2 separate regions of the Homo sapiens genome follow, and region 2 is linked to region 1. Evidence: fine-mapped expression QTL. Tissue or cell type: thyroid. Region 1 holds a variant in brackets; the other region holds the start of a gene. All regions are shown on one strand. Distances are between the middles of the regions.

Region 1 (7,922 bases):
CCTCCGCACTCCCCGCCCTTGTGCATGCTGTTCCCTCTGCCTGGTCCCGGCTCTGTGAGGTGTGAGGTCTCCCCGTTAGCCCTAGTTTTCTTTCTGCCTCCTGGGAACCGTGTCCACCACCTCTCCACTTTGATCAATTATTTCCTTGCCGTTGTCTGTCGGCCTGTCAGCCTACCCCCACCCGACCGAGAACGCCTTGACGGTAGTGAAATGGTCTTGCCAATAGACTCCAGAGCAGGCTCCGCCACGATGTCAGCGCCAGGAAATGTTGGTGAATGAATGAATGAAGGCTTTCTGCTGCGAATCAGGCCCACTCTCCACAAACAGACCTGAGGAGAGGGGCCCAGGCCCGGCCCCCAGCGCTTCTGCAGCGGGAAAGCTGCGTCCAGAGAAGGCTGGGAGGTTGCTCCCAGGCCGGCTGAGGAGAGACCCTCGGAGCCTTCAACGCAGCCAGGCGGCAAGTGGGGGCAGGGCGTGGGCGCGGACACACCCCCCGCAGTGCCCCCGGCGCCCGGCAGGGGGCGCCGCCCCGCCGGCCCACGCCCCGCCGCGCGCCGGGCAGGCCCCCTCGCGCAGGCGCGCTGCCGCGGGCGGAGGATCCGGGCCGCGCTTCCTCTCGCCAGGCCTGCGAGCTTCCTCCCAGCGGAGCCCTGGGCGAGCCGAGGTTGGCCGCCGCCGCCGCCGAGCCCGCTGCCGCCCTCCCGCTCCTGCCCCACCCGCGCCTTGCCCGGGGGCTTCTGCCGGGGTGGGGTCCGAGCCGGGCGACCGCCCGGCTGCGCCGCCGTCGGGGCCGTAACCCGGCCCGCCGTCCCTCCCGCCCCAGCCAGCCTCTGGCCGCCGGAGCCCGCGGGGCGTGGAGCGCGAGGAGCCCCGCGGCCCCGATCGAGCGTCCGGGGCGGCCCCCGGCAGCCAGCGCGACGTTCCAAAATCGAACCTCAGTGGCGGCGCTCGGAAGCGGAACTCTGCCGGGGCCGCGCCGGCTACATTGTTTCCTCCCCCCGACTCCCTCCCGCCCCCTTCCCCCGCCTTTCTTCCCTCCGCGACCCGGGCCGTGCGTCCGTCCCCCTGCCTCTGCCTGGCGGTCCCTCCTCCCCTCTCCTTGCACCCATACCTCTTTGTACCGCACCCCCTGGGGACCCCTGCGCCCCTCCCCTCCCCCCTGACCGCATGGACCGTCCCGCAGGCCGCTGATGCCGCCCGCGGCGAGGTGGCCCGGACCGCAGTGCCCCAAGAGAGGTGAGTGCCTGGCCGTCCCGGAGTGTCCCCTGGAGGGAAGAGGGTGGAGGTCGCGCGTCTAGTCTCTGTTGCTGCCACTGTCGCGTCCACTCCCATTCCCCTCTTCTCCCACTTCTCCCTTCTCTCCTTTACTCCCTTGCACGGGTTCGAATTCTCCCAGGAGCCACTGTCAGAACCCAAATTGGAAGGGAGTGCATGAGGGAGGTACTGCCCTGCAGCTCCACGGACTCGTCTTCTCGGGTCATCCCGAGTCCCCCCCTCTGTGGAGCTCAGAGTAGGAGGTGGCTGGAGTCTGGAGGAAGAGGATCCGTATGGGCCAGGTCCCTAGAGAGAGTGCTGGACTCCCCTGCCCTTCCCTGTACAGGGCCTCCCCGCAGGTGCCCTGGCTTGCTTGGTTCTGACCCCTCCCTCATTACCCCACCATGACCCTGCGGGCTGCAAGCAAGCCCAGGGCCCAGCCACCTCGGGTGAGCAGTTAGAAGCCCAGGTCCTAGGACTGAGCCTGTCACCCTTGGCCTCTCAGAAGACCAGGCCTAAGCCAAGGGATCTTTGGGTGGGAAACTGGGCAGGCCTTCTGCCCGGGGGGAGGTAACGGAGCATTAGCACCATGCCCCCACCTTCTGGCACCCTGGGCAGCCCATTCTCCTAGGCTCTTTGTGGCCCAGACCAGGTGTCAGGAAGGGGTGTGTCCAGCCAGCAGATTTTTTGGAGCTTAACTACCAGTTCACTTCCCCGCCCATTTTGTACACCCGGGAACCGAGGCTCAAAGGGAGAAGTTGCTACCCCAGGCCTCTAGTGGAGTTAGGCTGGCTGTCCTTTCATCCCCAGCTATACAGGGCTGGATGGCTGTGGGTGGAAGGAAACCAGGCAGGCACCTTCACCCACTGGGGACACAGGCCCCCAGCCCGGCCCCAGAGGGACCTTGTTGGTTGAGCACGTGCTTCCCTGCAGAGGGCTGGAGGGAGTGAAAGGGCTTCCGGCTCCAGCTGTGGCTGGGTCAGCTAGCAGGAGATGTGGGGAATGTGTGGTGTATGGCCATCTGTGTGGTGTGGCAGGAAGGTCCGGTCCTGGCCCCGGCTCTGAGTTGAAACAACCTGGTGGTCAGTCCTGACCCAGCACTCGCCACACCTATGGCCCAGCTGGCACAGGAGCAGCCAAGTTCAGGATATAAATGGGGTCACATGGGAACCGTGGAAGCTCTGTCTCCACTGGCAGCAGGCTACAGACTGGGGACATGGGAGCATTGTGAGAGTGGGGACACCCAGGGGGCCTGTTTCAAGCTCCTAGTACCCTGGCGGTTCCAGTGTCTTTCTTGGTTGTGGCCACAGCAGGAACAGGGCAAGGACAGCAGGGGTGAGGTTGAGGCCTGGCAGGATCCTCTGGCCCAGGAGAGCAGGCATTGCCCTGGTGGGTGCTGAGCAGTGTCTGGGCTCCCTTGGAGCTGCTGGCAGTTTTGTCCTGCTGGGTCCCTGCTCACGATTTAGGGTTTTTTTGTTTTTTCACTTTTTTTTCTGGCTGTCCTGACATGCACAGTGGAGGGGACCCAGATGTCCTGGGCCTGTGAGACTCCCCTCACATGGCCCCACACCCAGCCCTAACTTCCTTTCCAGCCTGAGGGACTGGGGCTGGAGCCTGACATGGTTAGCTCCCTCCCACCCCAGTCAGCCTTTTTAATTTTTATTTTATTTTATTTTATTTTTTTACCAACTGTGAGCTGTGAAGGTGTGATCCAGGGTCCCAGGGCCTTTGAAGAAAGGAGTCTGGCTTCTGGCTGGCACGTGTGCAGGGATGTGCTTTTCATTGGTGAGCTTGGTGCCCTCCACCCTCTCAGAAGCAGCTGCTCTTCTCTCTGCATTGGGTCAGGGGCAAGGAAAAAGCAGAAAATGTTCCCATTCACCACCGCAGGGGGGCCAGACCCCAAAAGGCTGAGCCACACAGAGTGGCCCTCGGCAAGGGTTGGAAATTTCGGGGACAGAATGCAGCTTCCTCCAAACAAGTA[T/C]AGGTAGGGGTTGAGACCCAGGATCCACAGTGTGACATGGCTGCCCCCCAAAGGGGGCAGACCCACCTGGGTGCGGTTCTGGGCTCCATCTTTTGAAGGATTTTAAAACCTTGACAGGTCATCTTCAAAGAGCCAGGGATGTTGACTGAGTCTGGGAAAGAGAAAGTAGGGACAGATTCTCATATGTCTGAGGGACTGTCCCAAATGAGAAAGGCATCCCATGGCAGAAATTGTCCCAGACACGTGGGCCAGAGCTAGGGAGCAGGTGGGTCCCAGGGAAGTGAATCTGAGCTCATTATAGGGAAACCATGAATGTACTCATTTTCTTGATTTAGAAAATAACAAAACAGCGCTACAGGAAATTTAGAAAATGAAACAAAAATCACCCACTATTTCTTCAGCAGGCAGTGACTGTGTTAGCATTTTGGAGTTCACTGCCAGTCTTTTCCCCATCCTTTTCCTTCATTGTCGTTGTCACTGGAGTGTGTGTGCCGTGACACCTTTTTTCATTTAATACTGCGTCTGTGGGCATTTTCTCATGGTGCTACGCGGTCTAAGTAACGTTGCTTCTAAAAAGCTACAGAACATTCTAGGCTGGCCTGCTGCAGCGCCATCACCCATACACTGGAGCGTGTGCATTTTTCCCCTCTGTTGCTGTTGTGGTTGTCGTTACTATGAGTCCCAAAAGCAGCCAGGGTGTTGGAGGGCACAAGCAACTTGGCACCCAACTGAATGTGGGTTCCAGGCCCAGACATGCCACTTAGGCCCAGGGTAGAGGGACCTTAGACAGGTCACTGACCTGCTGAGCCTCGTTGATATAAATAACAGGATGGTAACACCTACTTCAGAGGAAGGTGTAAGGACAGTGTCAACTAACTAACCAAGGGACTCTAAAGTGCCTGGCACAGCCCTTTCTTCACTCCCTCTGTGAGTAGGATTGGCATTGTTGAAGGAGTGCCCACTGCTGGCTGCCTCAACCTGTGGGGAAGGTGCCTGAGCCACGGGCCAATGTTGACTGACCACTCACCTGGCAAAGAGGTGGTCTCCGCCTGAGGAGCCCCTGTGAAACCCCCTGGCCCTGAGGTTCTAGAATACTATGGCCAGTGCCCTTGCCTGCCTTCCCTTCTCCCCATTACCATATGATTGGCTGGCCTAGGACATGGGGCTGGCCCTGGGAAGATGGGCTGCTGGTTAGGGTCCGGGACCTGACTCCACCCATTCCCCTTCCGGTCTCCCAGCATCAGAGCTAAATAGACAAGGCCTCTTCTCTCTCTCTCTCTCTCTTTTTTTTTTTTGTGTGTGTGTGTGTGTGTGTGTGTGTGTGAGATGGAGTTTTGCTCTTGTTGCCCAGTCTGGAGTGCAATGGCGCGATCTTGGCTCACCACAACCTCCGGCTCCCGGTTTAAGCGATTCTCCTGCCTCAGCCTTCCAAGTTGGGATTAGAGGCATGTGCCATCACGCCTGGCTAATTTTGTATTTTTAGTAGCGATGGGGTTTCTCCGTGTTGGTCAGGCTGGTCTCAAACTCCTGACCTCAGGTGATCCACCCACCTCGGCCTCCTGAAGTGCTGGGATTATAGGCGTGAGCCACTGCGCCTCTTCTGTAAGAGCCTGGCTGCCTCCTGCCTCCCAGCTCTGGCTAGGTCAGCCCAGCTTGGCATTTTCCCAGAGGAAATAGAGGCCTGCTTAGCCTGAGACTTAGACAAGGAACCCAGGCATCCTGAGCCCCAGCCCAAGAACAGCCATGCCAGCCTCATCTTCGCACCCTGTTCCAGTAGCCAAGGAAGGGAAAGAAGCTGGGAGATTAAGGGTAGGGGGATTCTGGAGCCTCCCAGAGCTTCCCAGGAGGGAGTTGGACACATCGGGAAACTCATGTTAGCCTCCCCCTCCTCAGCAGGTGTTCCCCAGGTCTAACCTGAGTGTGTATCACTGTGACACACCTGCTTCCTCTTGTTCTACTTTTGTGGAGACCAGGGTAACTGGGAGTGCCCTCCTACAGCCACCCCGTGGGCAGTAGCAGGACACCAGTCTCCTCCTGGCAACCCTGGGCCTAAGAGACTGTAGCCCCAGATGACCCTAGGGTGGCCCAGGACTAACCTAAGGAAGGGGTCCTCCCCCAGGTGGCCCATTCAGTGCAGAGGTCCCTTGGGCACACGACTTCAGACTCCAGCTGCCAAACTTTGGCCTGTGGAGTATCTCCTCCTCCCTGGTCTTAGTGTAAGGGAAGTGGGCATGACAACTGCCCTCCTGTCCCACAGCTTGGGATGGGATGAGGTCACAGGGTGGGGTCCGCCCCAAGATGCTGGCCTGGCCTGGCTCAGATGAGAGCCCTTTGGGTGTTTCTCAGTTTCCCCCGCCCTTGGTTGGGGACAGGATGGGTGGAGGAGCAGGCCACCCCCAACGCCCGGCAGGGAGCACTGCCTCCCTTCCCCCTCTCCTCTGGGTCCCTTCATCCAAGGGCTGGAAATAGAATCCGCTAAGTAATGATTAAAGTCAAATTCAGACCTAAAAATAAAGAGCTGGTGAAGGAAGAGCTGGTGCTCCCTGCATGGCTGAGGGGAGAAGTGAGCAGGGAGAGGCTGGCTTTGGGTGGCTGAGCCCCTGCTCCTCGGGATCAGAAGTACTCCACCAGTTGGGGGGGTGCTCTTTTATCTGCCATGATGTGGCCCATTAAGTGTAGACGGCACCACTCAGGGCAGACTGGCAGGACCCATTAGAAAAAAAATCCCATTTTTCCCATGGGGAAACTGAGGCCCAGAAAGGAGAAGTGGTTTGTCAAGCGACTATTTGAGAGCTCCCCTCAGCAGGCCCCCAGGGACTGGAGGGCCCTGTGCAGCCCAGCCTGCCCTTTCTGCCTGCTCAGTTTCTCTTCCTGGTTTTGAGGTGCTAAGATGAAGTCAGCTTCTCATCACACACTAGCTGTGCACACACCCTCCAACCGCAGCTTCCCTCCACCCCTCCTTCTGTGGTCTGGGCCCAGAGTCGAAGGAACAAGTAGAAGAGAGGCTGCTTGGTGCCCCCCTGGCTGTCCTGATCATGGCATGGTTGTAAGCCTCGTGGGCAGGCGAAAACCTGGGCATCATCTGCCCCCCTTGGACCCTGGCTGCTGCTTCTCAGCCCAGCCTGACACCTGGTCCTCATGCAGACTCGCGCATCTATCTATCTGCAGCTTGTGCTGTCCGTGCTGCAGGGAGACAGGAGGGAAGGATGAAGAGCAAACCCTGAGAGCGCCTCTGCTGGCGGGTAGAGGAGACGAGGAGTCAGTGAGGGGAGGCCTGTGGTTCTCACTTCCTGGCAGAGCTGGTAGGAGCTCTGAAGCTGGGGCTCTGCGTGGGCTGGGGCAGCCTGGAGGGCCTCCTGGAGGGGAAGGTCCTGTGAAAGTTGAGAAGTGTTTGAAGAAGAAGCGTGGTAGGAGGAGAGGTCCTTGTTTGAAGCTTCTGCCCTCTCTAGGGCTGCTGGCTCTTTTCTGTGTGTCCCTCGACAGGCTCTTGGCCTCTCTGAGAGGCTGGGGTATGCAGACAAGCAAGAAGTGGGCACAGAAGTACCTCTGCTTCCCAGAGCAGAACAGCCAAGCTCTGGGCAGACCTCCCCTCGGTGCCCCCCACCTGTCCATTTTCAGGGTGTCGTCTGTCCTGCACAAGGAAAGGTGGGAAGAAAGGTCCCCTAACCAAGGTTCAGACAACTCTGAGCTCAAGTACCCACACAGCTAGTTCCTCCTCTGTCAGAGATCACCAGTCCTTGCCCTATGGGGTGTTTGAAGGATTAAGTAACTAATGCAGTGCCCCAAACCCGGTTGGGTCAGTCAGCTGTAATTCCCGTGTTCTCATTCTGCAGCCCATCCTGCTGGAGGAGTGTACTGGTAACACCCCCATCTCCCTTAAGTAGTAGCAAGTCTGTCCTTTGTGTTGATCCCCACAGCTTTACCTTCTGAGCTGTGTGTTCTGCAGATCCTGGTTCTGAAGTGGGGAGACCAGAAATCTGGGGGCCGAAGTTTTAGACAGCTTATGGGCCTCCAGCCGTCAGTCTCCCCACCTAGAATGTGGCCAGGAGACTTCCGGGTGAGGGACAAGAACATGACTTTGAAGGGTCCATTGAAGGCTAGTGCTGAGAGGCTATATGCAAATGCAGGCAAATGAAGATGCAAAGACCACATCCTGTGCTAAGGGGGTGGGGGAGCAGAGGCCTGGGTTAGGGCCCTGGGGAGGCCCAGAGTCCCCATTGCCCAGCGCACATAGGTAATTAGGCTCCTGAGCGGTAATTAGAAACCTTTCTGGGCCAGGAATGGCAGCCTCAAGCCGCAGCGGTGCCTGGGGAGTAGGCTCCCCATTAGCCTGCTCTAACCCCAGCCCCCACCTCTCCCAAACCACTAGACGGGATTTCCGGTCCCACTGAACCATTGGGGGCAGGGGAAAAAAAGCCAGTGTGTTGCTATAATTTGGTATTTATCCATTAAATCCGCCCTTCTCCTTAGGTCAGGGTGCTGACGGGAGCCCCGGGATGGGGGTAGGGCAGCGTGCCCTGGAGCCAGAGCAGGCATTCTTCTGTTCCTTCGTAACCGCCCCGGGAGGTGTAGGCATCTCCAAGACCCTGGCGCCCAATTCTGCTGCTGCTCACCCTGAGACACCTGTGCAGTGGGGGTGCTGAGGGACCACCAGCGCAGGCTGCGGGGGTCAGTGGAAGCCCTCGGG
Region 2 (7,922 bases), 840 kb after region 1:
CTTTTTTTTTTTTTTTTGAGACAGGGTCTCTCTCTATCACCCAGGTCGGAGTGTAGTGGTGCAATCACAGCTCACTGTTGCCTCAATCTACTGGACCCAAGCAATCCTCCCACCTCAGCTTCCCCAGTAACTGAGACTACAGGTATACACCACCACACCCAGCCAATTTTAAAATTTATTGGTACAGACGGGATCTCCCTATGTTGCCTAGGCTAGTCTTGAACTCTTGGGCTCAAGCAATCTTCCCTCCTCAGCCTCTCAAAGTGCTGGCATTATAGGTGTGAGCCACTGCGCCCGGCCTTTTCTGAGCAGTTCCTCTACAGTTTCCTGAATAGCCATCACTCATTAACCAATATAACTCTCCATGCAGTTTATTCAATTGGTTATTTAATTCTCAACTAAGTGCCAACTCATATTATGAAAATTTAATTCCAGAGGAAACACTGGTTCTAGGGTCCCTGGAGGAAGACAAAAGCAATCAAAAACCCCAAACTCGCCAGGCACGATGGCTCATGCCTGTAATCCCAGCACTTTGGGAGGCCGAGGTGGGTGGATCACAAGGTCAGGAGTTCGAAACCAGCCTGACCAACATGGTGAAACCCCGTCTCTACTAAAAATACAAAAACTAGCTGGATGTGGTGGCAGGCGCCTGTAATCCCAGCTACTCGGGAGGCTGAGGCAGAAGAATCGCTTGAACCTGGGAGGCGGAGGTTGCAGTGAGCCGAGATCGTGCCACTGCACTCCAGCCTGGGCGACACAGCAAGACTTCATCTCAAAAAACAAACAAACAAACAAACAAAAAAACAAACTCTAGCGACCTGGGATTACAGGTGGCTCATGCCTGTAATCCCAGCACTTTGGGAGGCCAAGGCAGGAGGATCACTTGAGGCCAGTAGTTCAAGACCAACCTGGACAATGTAGTGAGACTATGTCTCTACTTTTTAAATAAAAAAGTAAAAAATTATTTTAAATTATAATTTATTTTTTAAAAAATCTGATTGTTACTTCCTCATATTCTAGTTGTGTTTTGTTTTTGGGTGGGCAGAAAGAAGGTTTCAGGGCTACTTATGTGGGACTCACTTGGAAAAGAGCTAGGATGTGGAAGGCTGCTTAACAAGTAACGTCAATGCTCCAGTAGTGTGAAGAACTTCCATAAAGTACATTAGGGAAACAAGACAGGCATGGAGTAGATGTCATTTTGAAAACAGACTTCCCACTTTAGGTGGACCCTAAAGAATGGGAGTGGGGAGAAAGGTGAATTCACACTTCATTCAAGCGCCTGTGAGCCTTAGATTATAAGAAAACAGGAACATTTGGGAGAAATCTGACTTGCACTGCTGGGCTGGCCCAGCCCTTTGGTTCTAGTGTAAACCAGAGGGCACCTCCAGTGCTTAACCTCCATCCCAGGCCAGGTCCAGTGCTCTGAGCATCAAAATCAACAGGTTCATTCCAGAGCCTCTACAGTGAAAAATACAACTCCATAGGCCTCTACTTGGCCAGTGAGTTACTTTCCATTGCACAAGTGAAGTCAGATATTTTTCTTGATTTGAAACATTAGATTTTGTTTAATTTAAAAGGAACTTAAAAATCGTGGTTTGCCAGGTGCAGTTGTGCTTGCCTTTAGTCCCAGCTACTCTGGAGGCTGAGGCAGGAGGTATGCTTGAGCCCAGGAGTTCGAAGCCAGCCTGGGCAATATAGCAAGACCTTGTCTGTAAAAAGAAAAAAAAATTGTGGCTAAATACACATATCATGAAATTCATCATCTTAACCATTTGTAGGTGTACAGTTCTGTAAAGTTAAGTATGTTCAACACTGCTGTGCAGAACTCTCCAGAACTCCTTTTATCTTGAATAACTGAACCTCTGTAACCTTTAAACATAAAAGAAACTTTTTTTTTTTTGAGACAGAGTTTCACTCTTGTTGCCCAGGCTGGAGCACAATGGCACGATCTTGGCTCACCACAACCTCCGCCTCCCAGGTTCAAGTGATTCTCCTGCCTCAGCCTCCCGCGTAGCTGGGATTACAGGCGCCCGCCACCACGCCCGGCTAATTTTGTTTTTGTATTTTTTAGTAGAGACGGGGTTTCACCGTGTTAGCCAGGATGGTCTCGATCTCCCGACCTCCTGATCTGCCCACCTTGGCCTCCCAAAGTGCTGGGATTACAGGTGTGAGCCACCACGCCCGGCCTTTTTTTTTTTTTTGAGACAGGGTCTCACTTTGTCTCCCAGGCTGGACTACAGTGGTGTGATCTCGGCTCACTGCAGCCTCCACCTCCTGGGTTCAAGTAACTCTCCTGCCTCAGCCTCCTGAGTAGCTGGGATTATAGACATGCACCACCATGCTCGGCTAATTTTTGTATTTTTAGTAGAGAAGAGGTTTCATTATGTTGGCGTGGCTGGTCTGAAACTCCTGACCTGAAGTGATCTGCCTGCCTCAGCCTCCCAAAGTGCTGGAATTACAAGCATGAGCCACTGCACCCGGCTTGAGGTGTGCCTTAATATCTTTGCAATGCAACCAAGGGTTGCCATTCCTGAGTGACTGAGGCCTCATGATGAGTGCTTGGGATCCATATGGTATGTTATTCAAATCATCCATAATGGTATGTATGCTATTGTCTCTACTTTTCTGTACTTTTGTGTAAGTTTGAAAGCTTTCATGATAAAATTTTTTTTTTTTTTTTTTTTGAGACGGAGTCTCGCTCTGTCGCCCAGGCTGGAGTGCAGTGGCGGGATCTCGGCTCACTGCAAGCTCCGCCTCCCGGGTTCACGCCATTCTCCTGCCTCAGCCTCCCAAGTAGCTGGGACTACAGGCGCCCGCCACTACGCCCGGCTAATTTTTTGTATTTTCAGTAGAGACGGGGTTTCACCGTTTTAGCCGGGATGGTCTCGATCTCCTGACCTCGTGATCCGCCCGCCTCGGCCTCCCAAAGTGCTGGGATTACAGGCGTGAGCCACCGCGCCCGGCCGATAAAAATTTTTAAAAAGTCATTATGTTTTCAGTTCATCACCAAAGTAATGACCAAATCCAAAGCACCTTTATTAGGCCTATCATGCACTATCTTGGTGTGGGCTCCCGCTCTGCCAAGAACCACACAACCTTTGAAACTGATGTCCTGGGCCTGGCGCGGTGGCTCACGCCTGTAATCCCAGCACTTTGGGAGGTTGAAGCGGGCAGATCACCTGAGGTTAGGAGATCGAGACCATCCTGGCTAACACAGTGAAACCCCGTCTCTACTAAAAAAAAAAAAAAAAATACAAAAAAATTAGCCAGGCATGGTGACGGGCGCCTGTAGTCCCAGATGCTCGGGAGGCTGAGGCAGGAGAATGGCTTGAACCCGTAAGGCGGAGCTTGCAGTGAGTCGAGATCGTGCCACTGCACTCCAGCCTGGACTTCGTCTCAAAAAGAAAAAAAAAAGAAAAACTGATGTCCTGGATACTGGGGCGGTTCCTTTACCTTCCTTCAAGGCTGTTCTTGGCGGGTTCCTGCTGTTTCGTTTTGTTTTTTCTTTGTTGTTGTTGTTTTTTTTTTGAGACAGAGTTTCGCTCTTGTTGCCCAGGCTGGAGTGCAGTGGCATGATCTCGGCTCACTGCAACCTCCATCTCCCGGATTCAAGCGATTCTCCTGCCTCAGCCTCCCGAGTAGCTGGGATTACAGGCACGCGCCACAACGCCCGGCTAATTTTTTTTGTATTTTTAGTACAGATGGGGTTTCACCATGTTGGTCAGGCTGGTCTCAAACTCCTGACCTCAGGTGATCCGCCCACCTCGGCCTCCCAAAGTGCTGGGATTACAGGCGTGAGCCACTGCGCCCCGCCGGGCTCCTGCTGTTTCAACCCATTCCTTGGATGGTGCTGCCTCCAAGTGTTCGGACCTTAGCCCCAGGTGGTCTTAGCACCAGTAACCCCCGCTCCAACTCCCTAAAGTCCGACCCGCCCCAGGCCCCGCCCACGCTCCACCCTCCCTCCCTGTCTAGCCCCCTCCCCCATCCCCTTCCCCCTCCTTCGCGTCTCCCCATCCGGCGCCCCCGCCTCGCGTCCCCTGGGTCCGCATCCTGGCAGCCTCCGCGTTTCCCTACCCCTGCTACCGGGCTCCAGCCCCGGGGACGCTATCTGCTTCACTCGGCCGTGCGCGCCGCCACCGCCCCGCACTGCCTTTTTCTAGGCATGGGGTCATCTAGGCCATGCATGATTCGCCCCTGCCCCACAGAAGTCCCTGAGGGGTCCTGGCCGGACAGCACGGAATAGAAGAACGGAAACTCTCCCAAAAGGAGTCCCAGGCCTGGCTCTATCCCTCCAGATGACGTCCCAGGAGGCCAGAGTGCAGGGCCGGCCAGAGGGAGTCACAGTCCGGCACCGAGAGGCAACTCGGCAGCTGGCGGGGCCCGGGCTCGAACCCAGGGACTCACCCAAACCGAGGTGACCGTCGCACGCGCCGCCGCCACCGGGGCCGACGAATCACCTGCCCTGGGAAGCTAGGTCCGCCCTCCCCCCGCCCCCAGCTGCTGCCTCACCGCTGGGCCCACAGGCCTCGCGCCCTGAGTTTCCGGCTCCTCCCTCCTTTGCGAACGCTGGGAGTTCCGTTGCCTACAGGCCGTTATTTCCGCCTTCAACGGCTGGGGCATTTCCCATCGGCTAGGGAGGGGGTCTTCTTGCATTTGCTTTGCACTGTCCGGGACTCTTCCTGCTAGATGACTTGACCAGGCCGAGGCCTCCCTCCTGAACACAAGCTCTTCGGGGCTCCTTTCGCCAATGGGAGGAGGCTGATCTTGTGGCCGGGCATTCAACGCCCTGGGCCCTGCCGCCTCCCGCAGATCTTCCCGGGCCTTAGGGCTTCACCTGGAGTCCCCTTCCCCTCTTGGGCCCGTGCTCTTAAACGGGCAGTGCCAATTGCCTGGATTACTCCAACTAACCCCTCACACCCAAGTTTCAGACACAGACCTTCGCTCCCCCACTTGCCCTTAACAAAAGCAGATACATACCTCGATTACTGCCTGTTTGCTGCTTTTGCGAGCTTCTTTCCCACTCGGCTGCGGGCTGAGCAATGGTAGGGACCTGGCTTGATTCCTATTTAAGTAGCCAGAGTCCAGCACAAGGGATGGCGCTCAGTAGACCCTGCGTGAAGGAATGATTAAATTGGTGCAAAAGACTAGGGTAAGCGGCAGAGATTTAGGAGATTAAGTCCTGCCAGGGTGTAGCCTCTGCAGGGCGGGAAGGCTGAGATTACAATTTTAAAACTGAATATTTATTGAATGCTTACATTCAGCCAATCCCTGCTTCACACCCATCATCTCATTTAATTTTTTTCCTTTTTTTTCTTTTTTAAGCCAGTAGATATTAACTCTTAATCATGACATGAGGAAGTAGACACACTGAAGCTCAGAGAGGTTAAGTAATTTGGCCAAAGTAACACAGCTTTCAAGGAAAATGTTTGAATTTGCTGAAAGTTTGATGTATAGGGAAGTTGACTACCGATGTATGACAGAAGCAAAGTATCCACCTTTGGCACATTTTGCGTCCACGGAATGCTAAAATTTGGACTTGTGTATTTTATGCACATTACACCATACATTCAGACTAAAAAGAATAGGAAATTAGGCTGATGAAAGGCTATTACTAGACTGGTAAAAAGGGTTCTGGGGCCCTGGAAGGCCAATTTTTCTGGACGTGAGATTTTTTTTTATTTTTTTGAGATGGAGTCTCGCTCTGTCGCCCAGGCTCTGGAGTGCAGTGGCGCAATCTCCGCTCACTGCAAGCTCCGCCTCCCGGGTTCACGCCATTCTCCTGCCTCAGCCTACTGAGTAGCTGGGACTACAGGCGCCTGCCACCATGCCCGGCTAATTTTTTTGTATTTTTAGTAGAGACGGGGTTTCACTGTGTTAGCCAGGATGGTCTCGATCTCCTGACCTCATGATCTGCCCGCCTCGGCCTCCCAAAGTGCTGGGATTAAAGGCGTGAGCCACCGCACCCGGCCTGGACCTGAGATTTTATTTAGGTGGCTCTTTCAGTGGCCAGGCTGAGCAAAGCTGTCCACTAGGGTATTTATTTGGTGCATCCACAAATAAAAGCTCATGTCTGCCTGATTTATGAGACTGACAAAAAAGAGAAGTCCAGGGCCTGACTTCACTAGGGAATTTTGACACCCAGGATATTAGGTATTTTGTGTCCAAACAACCATCCCTTACAACCACGGAGGTCACATCTAATGGTCGGGCTGCATAGAAAAGAATAAAGACCTTAAACATTTTAGGAAAATAGACTGAGACTGAGAAAGAAGTTCCCAAATTCATGCCTGGAGGTCCAGGAGAAATGTTCTAGTTCCTCACTCACACCTAGCTGAATAACTTCCCATATCACTGAAAAAACAAAACAAAACCAGGTCAGGCACTGTGGCTCATGCCTGTAATCCCACCACTTTGAGAGGCCAAGGTGGAAGTAGCCCATGAGTTTGAGACCAGCCTGGGCAACATGACAAAAACCCATCTCCACAAAAAAAAAATTAGCTAGGTGTAGTGGTATGAGTCATGATCCCAACTACTTGGAAGGCTGAGGTGGGAGGATCACTTGAGCCCAGGAAGTCATGGCTGCAGTGAGCTGTGATCCTGCCACTGCACTCAGCCTGGAGACTCTGTCTCAAAACAAACAAAAACCAGAGCACCTGGCCCAGGGGTTCATTTAGAGCCAGTGGGTGTTTCAGAAGGGGCTACCTCTGGAATCTCAGCTTCAGAATGTTGGCCACATGCACACACTGTGCTTTATGTCTTTAAATCAATTAATTTAAGAAAAAAGCCTGACTACATTTATTTAAAAGGGCAACATTGGCCAGGTGTGGTGGCTCATGCCTGTAATCCTAGCACTTTGGGAGGCCAAGGCGGGCAGATCACAAGGTCAAGAGATCCAGACCATCCTGGCCAACATGGTGAAACCCCATCTCTACTAAAAATACAAAAATTATCTGGGCATGGTGGCGCATGCCTGTAGTCCCAGCTGCTCGGGAGGCTGAGGCAGGAGAATCACTTGAACCTGGGAGGCGGAGGTTGCAGTGAGCCGAGATCGCGCTACTGCACTCCAGCCTGGTGTCAGAGCAAGACTCTGTCTCAAAAAAAAAAAAAAAAAGGGCAACATCATAGCATTACCTTACATCAATCACTTCCCACTTTATTAGAAGGTATCTATAAAATAAATACATTGCTCATGCCTATAATCCTAGCACTTTGGGAGGCTGAGGCAGACAGATCACCTGAGGTCAGGAGTTCGAGACCAGCCTGACCAACATGGAGAAACCCTGTCTCTACTAAAAATACAAAATTAGCTGGGCATGGTGGTGCATGCCTGTAATCCCAGCTACTCGGGAGGCTGAGGCAAGAGAATTGCTTGAACCCAGGAAGCGGTGGTTGCAGTGAGCCGAGATCGCGCCATTGCACTCCAGCCTGGGCAACAAGAGCGAAACTCCATCTCAAAAATAAGTAAATAAATAAATACGTGAAAATAATGTTATAGGCTGGTGCAAAAGTAATTGCAGTTTTTGGCCGGGCGCAGTGACTCACGCCTGTAATCCCAGCACTTTGGGAGGCCGAGGCGGGCAAATCACCTGAGGTCGGGAGTTTGAGACCAGCCTGACCAACATGGAGAAACCCCGTCTCTACTAAAAATATAAAATTAGCCGGGCGTGGTGGCACATGCCTGTAATCTCAGGTACTCAGGAGGCTGAGGCAGGAGAATCGCTTGAACCCAGGAGGCAGAGGTTGTGGTGAGCCAAGATGGCGCCATTGCACTCTAGCCTGGGCAACAAGAGTGAAACTACTTCTCAAAAAAAAAAAAAAAGTAATTGCAGTTTTTGCCATTAAAATTAATGGCACCAACCTAATATAATCTTGCTAGATAGATATGGATGTCTGCAGAAAGCTGTAAGTCTGGGGACTTTGTA

Evidence for each region. PIP is the estimated chance that this variant, and not a neighbour inherited with it, causes the effect.
Region 2: it holds the start of SNUPN, and the variant in region 1 is fine-mapped to the expression of SNUPN in thyroid (GTEx, PIP above 0.99). The same link has a PIP of 0.9 or more in lung and subcutaneous fat.

What each region holds. Positions count from the first base shown.
Region 1 is chr15:74,781,485-74,789,406 of GRCh38, forward strand. It overlaps CSK (C-terminal Src kinase), which reads left to right and starts at 596. Exons shown (of 13, transcript NM_004383.3): 1 at 596-1,236. It overlaps MIR4513 (microRNA 4513), which reads right to left and starts at 7,273; the gene lies at 7,188-7,273. RefSeq lists enhancers at 1,298-1,873, 2,756-2,885, 2,896-2,955, 5,724-5,913, 5,984-6,203 and 6 more and silencers at 476-695, 806-1,065, 6,316-6,493. The variant T/C (reference allele first, on the strand shown) is at 3,236.
Region 2 is chr15:75,621,262-75,629,183 of GRCh38, forward strand. It overlaps SNUPN (snurportin 1), which reads right to left and starts at 4,464. Exons shown (of 9, transcript NM_005701.4): 1 at 4,405-4,464. RefSeq lists a silencer at 3,943-3,992 and an enhancer at 4,643-4,832.